Linked DNA regions of Homo sapiens. The protein of the gene in region 1 interacts with the protein of each later gene in a biochemical or structural test. Each region holds a gene or a part of one and is shown on either strand. Other genes may lie near its edges.

The links.
Region 2: the proteins of ARFGEF1 (region 1) and MYO9B form a complex in vitro, tested with the Homo sapiens proteins (one study listed by IntAct).

The regions. Positions count from the first base shown.
Region 1 is NC_000008.11:67,196,983-67,200,899, reverse strand, and holds the end of ARFGEF1 (brefeldin A-inhibited guanine nucleotide-exchange protein 1), read left to right. Parts: intron 1-386; coding exon 387-504; coding exon of another isoform or gene 505-714; exon of another isoform or gene 715-1,010; intron 1,011-1,801; coding exon 1,802-1,966; 3' UTR 1,967-3,242; downstream 3,243-3,917. UniProt on the Homo sapiens protein: Promotes guanine-nucleotide exchange on ARF1 and ARF3. Promotes the activation of ARF1/ARF3 through replacement of GDP with GTP. Involved in vesicular trafficking.
Region 2 is NC_000019.10:17,078,566-17,085,858, forward strand, and holds part of MYO9B (unconventional myosin-IXb), read left to right. Parts: intron 1-7,293. UniProt on the Homo sapiens protein: Myosins are actin-based motor molecules with ATPase activity. Unconventional myosins serve in intracellular movements. Binds actin with high affinity both in the absence and presence of ATP and its mechanochemical activity is inhibited by calcium ions.

The DNA.
Region 1 (3,917 bases):
GATTAAGGCCCCACAGGGCCTTGTGATCTAGGGCCTCACAAGGGTCAGTGAAGAGAGGAGTCGCCTCAGATTCCAGTCCAGGTCTCTTGAAACTAAGCTTTGCATGTGCCACCTGCCACACGGCAGCTTTGCATTGAAAGAAACTTAGAAAATTAGGAAAATGTGGGTTTCCTGGTAAGTTACAATGGCTTCTTTTAACATGTTTGGTTTTCTTCCCAATTTGAAAAGCATGTTTATGTTGACACTCCAGCTAATGTAAACAGATGGGATCTAACATGTTCTTGAATAGTTCATATTCACTACTATGTTCATGATTGCTCTTTCTCGGTGAATATGGGGACCAGTAGATACGCAAGTAACATTAAAGGAAACCTTTTCTTTTGCAGTGTCTGCAGTGAAGCACTAAGTTACTTCCTCACTCTAACATCAGAAAGTCATCGAGAAGCCTGGACTAACTTACTGCTTTTGTTTCTAACTAAAGTTCTAAAGATAAGTGATAATAGGGTAAGTATGAGGCTTCGAATCCAGCCCCACATTTCTAGCCCAATTCGCATTGGGATGCGGGGTCCCAGAGCCGCCGTGCAAGAGCTCTCAGAGATGAATCAAGCAGTGCCCAGGCTGCACTGCTGCTTGTGCAAAGCCACCAGTGGCCTTGCTGTATCTTCCTCAGTCCTTGCTTTTCTCCCCCCTTACCCAGCTTTGTTCACTAATTAGCAGTTCTCTAGGGGATTCAGTAGGCGAGGGATCAGAATCCCTTGGGATACCTTGACAAGTTCCCATTATGACCCCAGGAATCTCCCCCTTTGCCCCATTTTGAAAACTGCTGTCCAACCACCTCATGGCCTTGTACTCTGCCTACTACTCAAGACTACATCTGGTTCCTGGGCCTGTGCTCTGGGCTGCAGCTGTTCCTTTGGCATATTTAGTGGTTCCAGGTAACCCAGAGTCCCTAGTGAATGGGCCTCATCTAAGAATTTTAAACCAGTAGAAATAAAGATAAAATACACATATATGACTGTAAATATAAGTGCATATTTAAGGTTTTCAAAAATGTACACTCTATTCTTAGAAAAAAAAATAGCAACTTACAGCTCACACATACAGGCTGCTTTGCTGTGACCCTAGAATAGGTTTAAAAATGCCTAGTGATGTGGCCCACTACTTGAAAGGCCAAGGGCTCTAAATCCCAGCCTCTGTTACTCCACAGCTGGCTTTTTTTTTTTTGGTCATAATATGTCTCACTGCTTCCCTGGATCTGGAGGGGTACAGAAGGGGTAGGAAAGGAGGCTGCAGACTAGAGTTCAGAGATGAAGGAACTACTGTGAAGATACAGCCAAAGTATAGCAATTGAACTGTACATGTGAAACGTATGTAGCTTTGCCTGAAGAACTGTTTAGATTTTATATTGCAGTGTTGGGTAGAATTTTCCCCAAAACTTAAAATTTTTATGTAACAAAAGATAAAATTTCAGTAACCCATAGCTTATAAAATCTCAACTCTAGTTTGTACTCACTTGCCTGCTGCTTATTACCCAGGAAAAACAGTGCTAAATTACTAAAAGTTTGTCAAAGATATACAGACAAATGTTTTTCAAAATAAGGATATGTAAGTGAATAGTGTTTGTATGAAGTGAGTTTTTCTAACACTTCTGTCTCTCAGTTCCACAAACCAGAGTCACTGCCTGCTGTGGACCCTGCTTTCCTGGCTCCTGTGATGGAGCCCCAGAGTAGTTTGACTCTAGGCAGTTTAAGGCTCTGCAGTTTGCAATCACTACTAATGGAGAAATTCATTTTCCCTGCAGTTTAAAGCTCATGCATCATTCTACTACCCTCTCTTATGTGAAATTATGCAATTTGACTTGATTCCTGAACTTCGTGCTGTTCTTAGAAGATTTTTTCTGCGAATCGGAGTAGTTTTTCAGATATCACAACCACCTGAACAGGAACTTGGAATAAACAAGCAATGATGGGAACTTAATATTTTTGTTGGCATTTACATCCCTCTGCTCTTTAAAAGGACGCTGGAGCTGAGGTTTCCTACCTGAAAAATGATTTCTCTGGATTGCAGTGTCTGAGTTACTGGTAAAGATGCTTAGAAGTCTTACTCAAACTTGCAACACTCCAGTCCCTTTTAGTGCTGGTGGATTTTGTGTGTTATATTGGCCTCATGTTGAGCAGAAAGCCTGTTTAAACAGTGTCAGCTCATGCTCACGGGTCCTTCCCTGTCTTCCACGGCAGGAAAAGCCCCACGTTTTTGGCAGGTGTGGAAGTGAAACTTACCCAAAGAACTATAGATGTAAAGATTGAACTTCTACAAGAAGTACAACTCAGGAGAGCTGTATTTTGAAGGATAAAATGTTTATAATTGGGGAGTGGGGAGAGAAGAAGAAATTATTGTTCATGGTAAAAGATATTTAGCAACTATGGTATTCTTATTCTGAAGATTTTTGCACACTCAGGCTATCTGAGATACTGGTAATCATCCTGTGAAAAATGTACAGAGATGCAGGTCTGTAATATAAAAATCTTAAAACATTATATAGTTCTTCCTGCACTGTTTTCTTTATTTTCTTATTCATTTGCTAAATACCCATAATATTTTGTCAAATGCACTAAACATTTGGGTGGAACTTTCTTTTTTATTTTATAGGGATTTTTAGTTTTGCCCTTTTTGGTAGGTGGTGATTTTGAGGCTGTAACATGCCCAGAAGCTGTTGTGGCCGACACTTCAACAATAGGGAAAAAAAGGTAGAAAATATCCCTACTGACAGTAACTACCTGTCACATATTTCTCTTAGGACTTTTAAAGATGAGCCATTAAAATAGAATGATCCTTTATGGACCAAAACTTGAATCACTGCAAAATGAATCCAGATTGCTGTCATTTTCTTTTCTTTTGGGTGGTGGGGCTTGATGTAGATTTTACTCTATGTACAGAATTTAACGTTGAATATATTAAAATAACAAATCTGGCATGGTTTGCGGAGGTTAGATTTACTGGAAATGTATTCATACTGTGAATTGTGCTCTGATGGTTAAAAGACAAGATTGTCAAGCATTCCGTATTAACAGTGGATGTAGAAAATTTTTTCAGATGGACAAAATGTATATGGTACAGATGTAAAGTTTTCTATGTAAAAAATTCTGTACAACTTTCTGTACAATATTGATTCCCATCTGGCATATTCTAATCAGGTTATAGGTCAATAAAGTTTTTGAATTATTTCATCAGTGCAATCAAAACCTGTATAACCCACCCCCATGTTTCATTGATTCTGGTCTATTAAGGCTGAACAACTATGGAAAAGACATTTTCAGCCAGAACTACAAATTCAATATTGTTTGGTTCTGGTATTTTCTTTCCAGCTTCTAGCATTAGATCCTCCTTACACTGTACTTACCATAGGATACTTATTTTTAAGGCAATTTTTAAAATTTTTATTTATCTTTTAGAGACCGGATCTCACTCTGTTGTCCAGGCTGGAGTGCAGTGGTATGAGCACAGCTCACTGTAGCCTCAAACTGGGCTCACGATTCTCACACTCCACCCTCCCCAGTAGTGAGGACTGTAGGCACACACCACTACACTTGCCTAATTAAAAAAAAATTTTTTTTTTTTAGAGATGGGATCTCACTATATTGCCCAGGCTGGTCTCAAACTCTTGGACCTGAAGTGATCCTCCCAACTCAGCCTCACAAAGTGCTGGGATTATAGGCATGAGCCACCATATCCAGCCCAAAAATCTTTTAATATTTTTTGCATATTAATAACCTAGCATCAGGCTACACTACTTGAATGCTGAAAAGAGCTAAAGTTCTCTTCAGCACAGTTTGCAATATTGTGTGTTCGAGGAGTCAGTTGAAGTTGTGTGGTACATGGCATTAAACAAAAAGGGAACGTGTCAATATCATCTAACA
Region 2 (7,293 bases), on another chromosome or scaffold:
GGAATTCAGATCAGGTCATCAGTACGGTGACAGAGGGGCCACAAGATATTATGGGGGGAGAATTAGGGACAACCAATGCAAGCTTTAGGACAAGGGGGATTCCAGCAAGTTTCCTCGGAAGTAGTGGCTGGCCCCAGGTCAAACCTGGAAAGATACCACGTGTTAAACCACTCCGGGTGGAAGGGATTGCACAAGCAGATACCTTTGAAGCCCGGCCTGTACAGGGCATCCCAGCTCTCTCATTCTGCCAACCGGCAGTGCGAGGGTCCTTGTTCTTATCTTCCTGATACAGAAACAGGCCCAGGCAGGTGATGACTTCAGAGATGGTTCCTTGAGCTTTCTAGAAACATGCAGGATCCTTAGTAACCTTTAACTGGGGAAACCCAAATCTCCAGGGCCGTTTCTCACCCGCATCACCATTGACAGTTGGGGCTGTGCACTGTAGAATGTGGAATAGTGTCCCTGGCTGTCACCCATGAGATGCCAGTAGTATTCCATCCCCTCCAAGGGGTAACAACTGAAAATGACTCCAGCCATGGCCACGTGTCCCCTGGGGGCAGAATCACCTCCCCCGCCAGGTGAAATGTGATGCTCATTAGTAAAACCTGGTTCCCCTCTAGGGCCCATCATTGCCTTGGTGGGTCCTTGGTGTTTGTGGAGCCCCTGAGGAACTGCCACTAAGAGTGGGAACAGGGGCAGAGACCAGGAACTGAATCCTGCCATCCAGTCAGTTCTTAATCAGGAGGGAGCGGGTCTTGATAAAAAGGAGGAACCGTTAGGAACGGACTGTGGGAGGGTAGGCAACGTGCCCGAGGGTGGACAGCGGGTGCCCTTGTCTTTTCTTTGTCTTGTGACTGACCTGGATTTCTGGAGGAACTGTCCTCGTCTTAGAATGATCTGTTGCTTTTCTTCTGAGATTAGAGGTATTAGATTCTCTCCCAAGAGCTACTTTGGAGGTTGCCCCGGATAAACGTCGCTTTTGTAAGCTGCATTATCTCTTCCATGGGCCCTTTCGCCCGCCCGTTCCCAAGCACATACTGCTGAATTTTTGTTCTTGGTCCATCTTGCTGTCCCCTTCCCTGCTTGGCCCCCTCCTTGACCGTGACTTTGCTGCTTTACCTTGATTGGAGGAGACGCTCTGGGGCCACGGGACTGACGGTCCCTTCTGGGTGCTGCCCCCACACCCCACCCACCAGCCCTTTGTGTGCCCGGCATCCCCAGCCCAGCTGTGCCAGGCTGCCCCTGCTCGGCCGGCCATTCAGACGGCCCCAGGCGGCCTCTCGGCAAAGCAAGACAAGCCCTTCTCTTCTGCCCTCGTGGTCCCTGGAGTGGCAGAACAAAGGGCTCTGTCTCCACACCAGCCCACCGCCGCAGCCCAGAGCCCCGTTCCCTTTCAATTTCTATCGTGGCTGGGAAAGAGCCTCAGAGATTAGGCATGTTTCAGAAATGCAGCTGACGAGTTTGGGTTCTACTCATTTCCTCAGCGAGACTTTCTGAGCCCGAGCCCGATGATAAATAAAGTAGTGATTCAAGGGTTCAGCCCATGGGTTCGTCGGAGTGATGAATAAGATATCCTTGTCTGACTCACTTGTTTAAAACCCATCTCTGCCCTGCTGCACAGGGCTGTATGTGCAAGAGAAGGAGCCCCGCTAGGGGTGTTTCATGACTGTTGTTGCTGGGTGCCTGAGTTTGCTAGGGCTGCTGTAACAGAACCGCACGCTGGGTGGCCAGAACGACAGAAGTATATTGGCTTGCAGTTCTAGAGGCCAGACGTTTAAGATCACATTCAAGATCAAGGTGTTGGCAGGGTTCGTGCCTTCGGAGGGCTGTGAGAATCTGTTCCACGCCTCTCTCTGTTGGCTCATACATAGCCGTCTTCCCCTGGGTCTTCACATCGTCCTCCCTCTGTGCCTGTCTCTGTGTCCAAATTTCCTCTTATGAGGACAGCAGTCATATGGAAGGGGGCCCACCCTAATGACATCATTTTAACTGAATCATCCCCATAAAGACCCTGTCTCTAGGCGAGGCTTGGTGGCACACGCCTGTAATCTCAGCCCTTTGGGAGGCTGAGGCAGGAGGATCACTTGAGGCCAGGAGTTTAAGACCAGCCTGGACAACATAGCAAGATCCCATCTCTACAAAAAAATACTAAAATTAGCTAGACATGATGGTGAATGCCTGTGGTCCCAGCACTTTAAGAAGCTGAGACAGACAGATCGCTTGAGCCTGGGAGTTTGAGGCTACAGTGAGCTATGATCATGGCACTGCATTCCAGCCTGGGTGACAGAACGACACCCCCATCTCTTAAAAAAAAAAAAAATCCCAAATATACTCATACTCTGAAGTTCTGAGGTTTAGGATTTCAATATGTGAATATTTCTTTGTGGAGGGGAGTGGTGGACACAGCTCAGCCCATAATACTGAGAAAAGGACAAATTCAAATTACATTTTTATTTATTTGTTTATTTATTTTGGGGGCGGGGGCAGAGTCTCACTCTGTCACCCAGGCTGGGGTGCAGTGACGCGATCTCAGCTCACTGCAACCTCTGTCTCCCAGGTTCAAGTGATTCTCCTGCCTCAGCCTCCCGAGTAGCTGGGACTACAGGCGTGCGCCACCACGCCCAGCTACTTTTTGTATTTTTAGTAGAGATGGGCTTTCATTGTGTTGACCAGGCTGGTCTTAAACTCCTGACATCAGGTGATCAGCCCGCTCGGACTCCCAAAGTGCTGGGATAACAGATGTGAGCCACCGTGCCCGGCCTCAACTTACATTTTTAGATAATATAGGAACCTGGAGGGAAATGATCGTGTCAATAGAGAATAGGTCCATTTTGTCTCTTCTCACTCCTTTAAATAAACACTTTAAGGGTGAGCAGGTTGGTTGGCCACATCAATTTTGGACGCTCCCTGTTTTCCAGATCTCACACTCATACATTCAGGGGTGACTAAAGAGAGGTGAGAGGCCTGGTGCAGTGGCTTACGCCTGTAATCCCAGCACTTTGGGAGGCCGAGGTGGGAGGATCACCTAAGGTCAGGAGTTTGAGACCAGCCTGGCCAACATGATGAAACCCAGTCTCTACTAAAAATACAAAAATTAGCTGGGTGTAGTGGCACACACCTGTAATCCCAGCTGCTTGGGTGGCTGAGGCAGAAGAATTGCTTGAACCCAGGAGGCAGAGGTTGCAGTGAGCCGTGATCTTGTGCCACTGCACTCCAGCCTGGGCAAGAGAGTAAGATCCCATCTCAAAAAAAAAAAAAAAAAAAAGAGGCGAGGACCCAGCCCAGGGCGGAGTGGGTCCCATGGGATTTTACAGGGGATGTGTTGAGGGCCAGGTCCACAAGGCTGCGTGTGCCTGGTGGGGAAGCAGGATGAAGTTTACAAACAGGGCATGGGGCGGGGGTATATCTCTGTTCTCAGTATTGCCAGGGTCAGGGGCAAGGAATATCCAAAAGTAACTACACTCTTGGACCCAAGTGACCTTAGGACCAACTGCTGTCACAAGTGATTGAACAAAAGAAGTTTCTGGAAGGTCTTAAAATCCTTCAGCAAAAAGGAAGTATTGGCTGGGAGCCAGGCTCAGAGCTGGCCCTTGGGGAGACTGAGGAGAACAGAAATAGCCCTCGCCTCTGTTCAGATGTTCAGCCAGGAGTCACGAGCATGGAAGTCAAATTAACAGCCCAGTGGGGTCTGTGAAGGTGCCGGCAGCAGGCGAGCCTGTGACGGGAGCCTGCCTGGCCTGGGGACTCGCTTATGGGGGAAGTGGGAGACCTGAGAGCTTCCCCAGTCAGCCGTGCCCTGGGTCTTCTGCCTGCGAGGTGGGCACCGCTGCTTCCTCACGAGTGAAGTCACAGCAGCACAGCAGCAGTGGGAGGCTCAAGGCTTTGCTGTGGATCTTCCTGGGCTCACTGCTCAGAGCATCTCCACGAGGAGGCGTCTGCCACCTCCTGCATCCCATTCCAGGGCAGACGAGATCGGGGGCAGGAGGGTGACATTTGAGATTTTGATTCCCAGGGTATGGGTACTCACGTGGGGCTTTAATTTCCTGGTGAATGTGCCATGGGGGGCAAGGGGTAGCTTGCCCACTGCTTGGGAAGACCCCTGGGGTCCTTGTCTTGTCACGTGGAGATGCTGTTTATTGGGTAGGCACAAGAACAAGAGAGGCGGAGAAAGTGTGATCGTACTTATTTGGCCCATAGGTGCCGTGGAAACTGGTTCCTTTCCCCTGGGTGGTCCCTCGGGAGTCAGGCCCATGATTTAGCAGGGAAGGGAGAAGGTAAGGGTTGGGGTGTCCTGGAGTGCAGAAAGTGGCCTGAACCGGGGCAGGTACGTCCTCAAGGCTGGCTCCCTCTTGCACTCCGCACTCTCAATATCCTGCAGCCAAGTGAGCGTGGGGTTGGAACCATGCTAACATGTCAAGTGCCCGTGGGTCCTCGAGGAGGCTGAAAGTGTGTGAATCTTGCTTTTTTTTTTTTTTTTTTTTTTGAGACAGGGTCTCACTCTGTCACCTAGGATAAAGTGCAGAGGCATGATCTTGGCTCACTGCAGGCTTGACAACCTCCCTGGGCTCAAGTGATCGTCCTACCTCATTCTCCCTAGTAGCTTGGGACTACAGGCTGTCACCACCACGCCAGGCTAATTTTTGTATTGTTTATAGAGACAGGGTTTCACCATGTTGCCTGGTCTTGAACTCCTGGGCTCAAGTGATCACCCGCCTCAGCCTCCCAAAGTGCTGGGATTACAGGCGTGAGCCACCACGCCCAGCCACTTTTCTGATTGATTTAAAGCATATCTTCTCAGCTGCAGCATTGGTGACATTGGGGGCAGATCATTCTCTTGGGTAGCAGCTGCCGTCTGCACTGTAGGGTGTTGAACAGCATCCCCGGCCTCCACCCTTCAGATGCCAGTAGCACCCCCTGCTCTGTGTCTGGATAACCAGAAATGTCTCCAGACATGGCCAAGTGTCTCCTGGAGGGCAGAGTCAGCTCTGGGTGAGAAACACTAGTTCCGGGTTCTGTTGACTCCTAAGTGACTTTGCGTCTGTCATCATCTGACTGACCGAAGTCCTAGGATGCTGCCCTCTTTTTTTTTTTTTTTTTTGAGACTGAGTTTCGTTCTTGTTGCCCAGGCTGGAGTGCAATGGCACGGCCTCGGCTCACTGCAGCCTCCACCTCCCAGCTTCAAGTTACCGATTCTCCTGCCTCAGCCTCCCAAGTAGGTGGGGTTACAGGCACCCGCTACCACGCCCAGCTAATTTTTATATTTTTAGTAGAGATGGAATTTCACCATGTTGGCCAGGCTGGTCTTGAATTCGTGACCTCAGGTGATCCACCCACCTCAGCCTCCCAAGGTGCTGGGATTGCAGATGTGAGCCACCATGCCCAGCCCGCACATTTAAATACACAAAGTGAATGGGGAAGGAGAGAGGAGAGAAATCAGAGAGGCTAGGTGGATTCTCCTGGTTAATAACCCTTTGGGTTAATAACCCTTTGGGGGCCAAGTGATTACATGCCTGTAATCCCAGCACTTTGGGAGGCGGAGGTGGGAGGATCCCTTGGGCCCAGGACTTCCAGACCAGCCTTGGCAACATAGTGAATCCCCGTCTCTACAAAAAAGATACAAAAATTAGCCAGGTATGTTGACACATGCCTGTGGTCCCAGCTACTCAGGAGGCTGAGGCCGGAGGATCACTTGAGCCTGGGAGGTTGAGGCTGCAGTGAGCCAAGATGGTGCCACTGCACTCCAGCCTGGGTGACAGAGTGAGACTCATCTCAAAAAAAAAAAAAATTATTGGGAATGTATTCTGTGTATTCTGGTATTTAGTGTGAGGAAAGAATCAATTTTTTTCCAAATAATTAATGTAGGGTCTCTCACCCTCAGCACTGCTGATATTTGTGGCTGGGTCCCTCTCTGTGGTGGGACCCTGAGCACCACGGGGTGTGGACCAGCATTTCCAGCCTCAACCTTCTTCATGTTGGTAGCATCCTCCCTGTCCCAACAACCCTTAATATGTCTCTGGGCCAGGCGCAGTGGCTCACATCTGTAATCCCAACACTTTGGGAGGCTGAGGCAGGCAGATCACTTGAAGCTAGGAGTTTGAGACCAGCCTGGCCAACATGGTGAAATCTTGTGTCTACTAAAAATACAAAAAAAAAAAAAAAGAAAAAAAGAAAAACACACACACACACAAAATTAGCCAGGTATGGTGTGGTGCACCTGTAATCCCAGCTACTTGGGAGGCTGAGGCAAAACAATCGCTTGAACCCGGGAGGTGGAGGTTGCAGTGAGCCAAGATCATGCCACTGCACTCCAGCCTGGGCAACAGAGCAAGACTCTGTCTCAAAGGGAAAAAAACATGTCTCGGGACAGAGGTTGCCAAGTGTCCCTGAGGACAGAGTCAGCTCCAGGGGAGAAACAATGATATAGAAGAACACCAAGCTTTTGAGGGGCAAGCAGAGCCTGTTGAGACCTACAGGTCAAGCCCGTGACTGGCCTGAGGTGACTTCTTTCTCCCCTGCCTTTGTGGTGTGATCACCAGGGTCCCTGGCACAGGGATGAGCTTCAAGGGGAGCTGGGGAGTGGCTGTTTCACCGAAGACACTGGTGGCAGCAAATCCTGAGACCATTGTCCCCCACCATCCAGTTCCGCTCTCAGGTGATCAGAAAATGGAACGAGCTCCCTGTGTCCTTTGTAGAAACCAGGCAGAGGGTGGGTTTCATGGCCAGGAGGAGGAGCATCTGTCTGAAGGCCGCAAGGGCTGGGTCACAGATGGGCAGCATTGGGAGATCCTGGCAGGCAGAGAGCACTCCACGTGGAAACTAGAAGCATGGGGCAGATGGGGGGCCAGGTAGCGAGCCACCTAGGCAGCTCAGCAGATGTGGAGAATGGGAATAAACTTGGGGGGTCTTTGGGGGAATCAGTGGGATAGGTGATAGCTAAAAGGTACAGGGTTTCTTTTTAAGGTGATGTAAATGTTCTAGCCAGGGGCAGTGGCTCATGCCTGTAATTCCAGCTCTTTGGGAGGCTGAGGCAGGAGAATCACTTGAGCCCAGAAGTTTGAGACTGGCCTGGGCAACATAGGGAGATCCCGTCTTTAATAAAAAAAAAAAAAAATTGAAAAATTTACCGAATGTGGACTTGCACCTGTAGTCCCAGCTACTCCAGAAGCTGAGGTGGGAGGATTACTTGAACCCAGGAGTTCGAGACCGGCCTGGGCAACATAGGGAGACCCCTGTTCTTACCCTGGGGATGGCTTTCCTCCGGGCGTGACGACAGATGAGCTGTGTGATTGCACA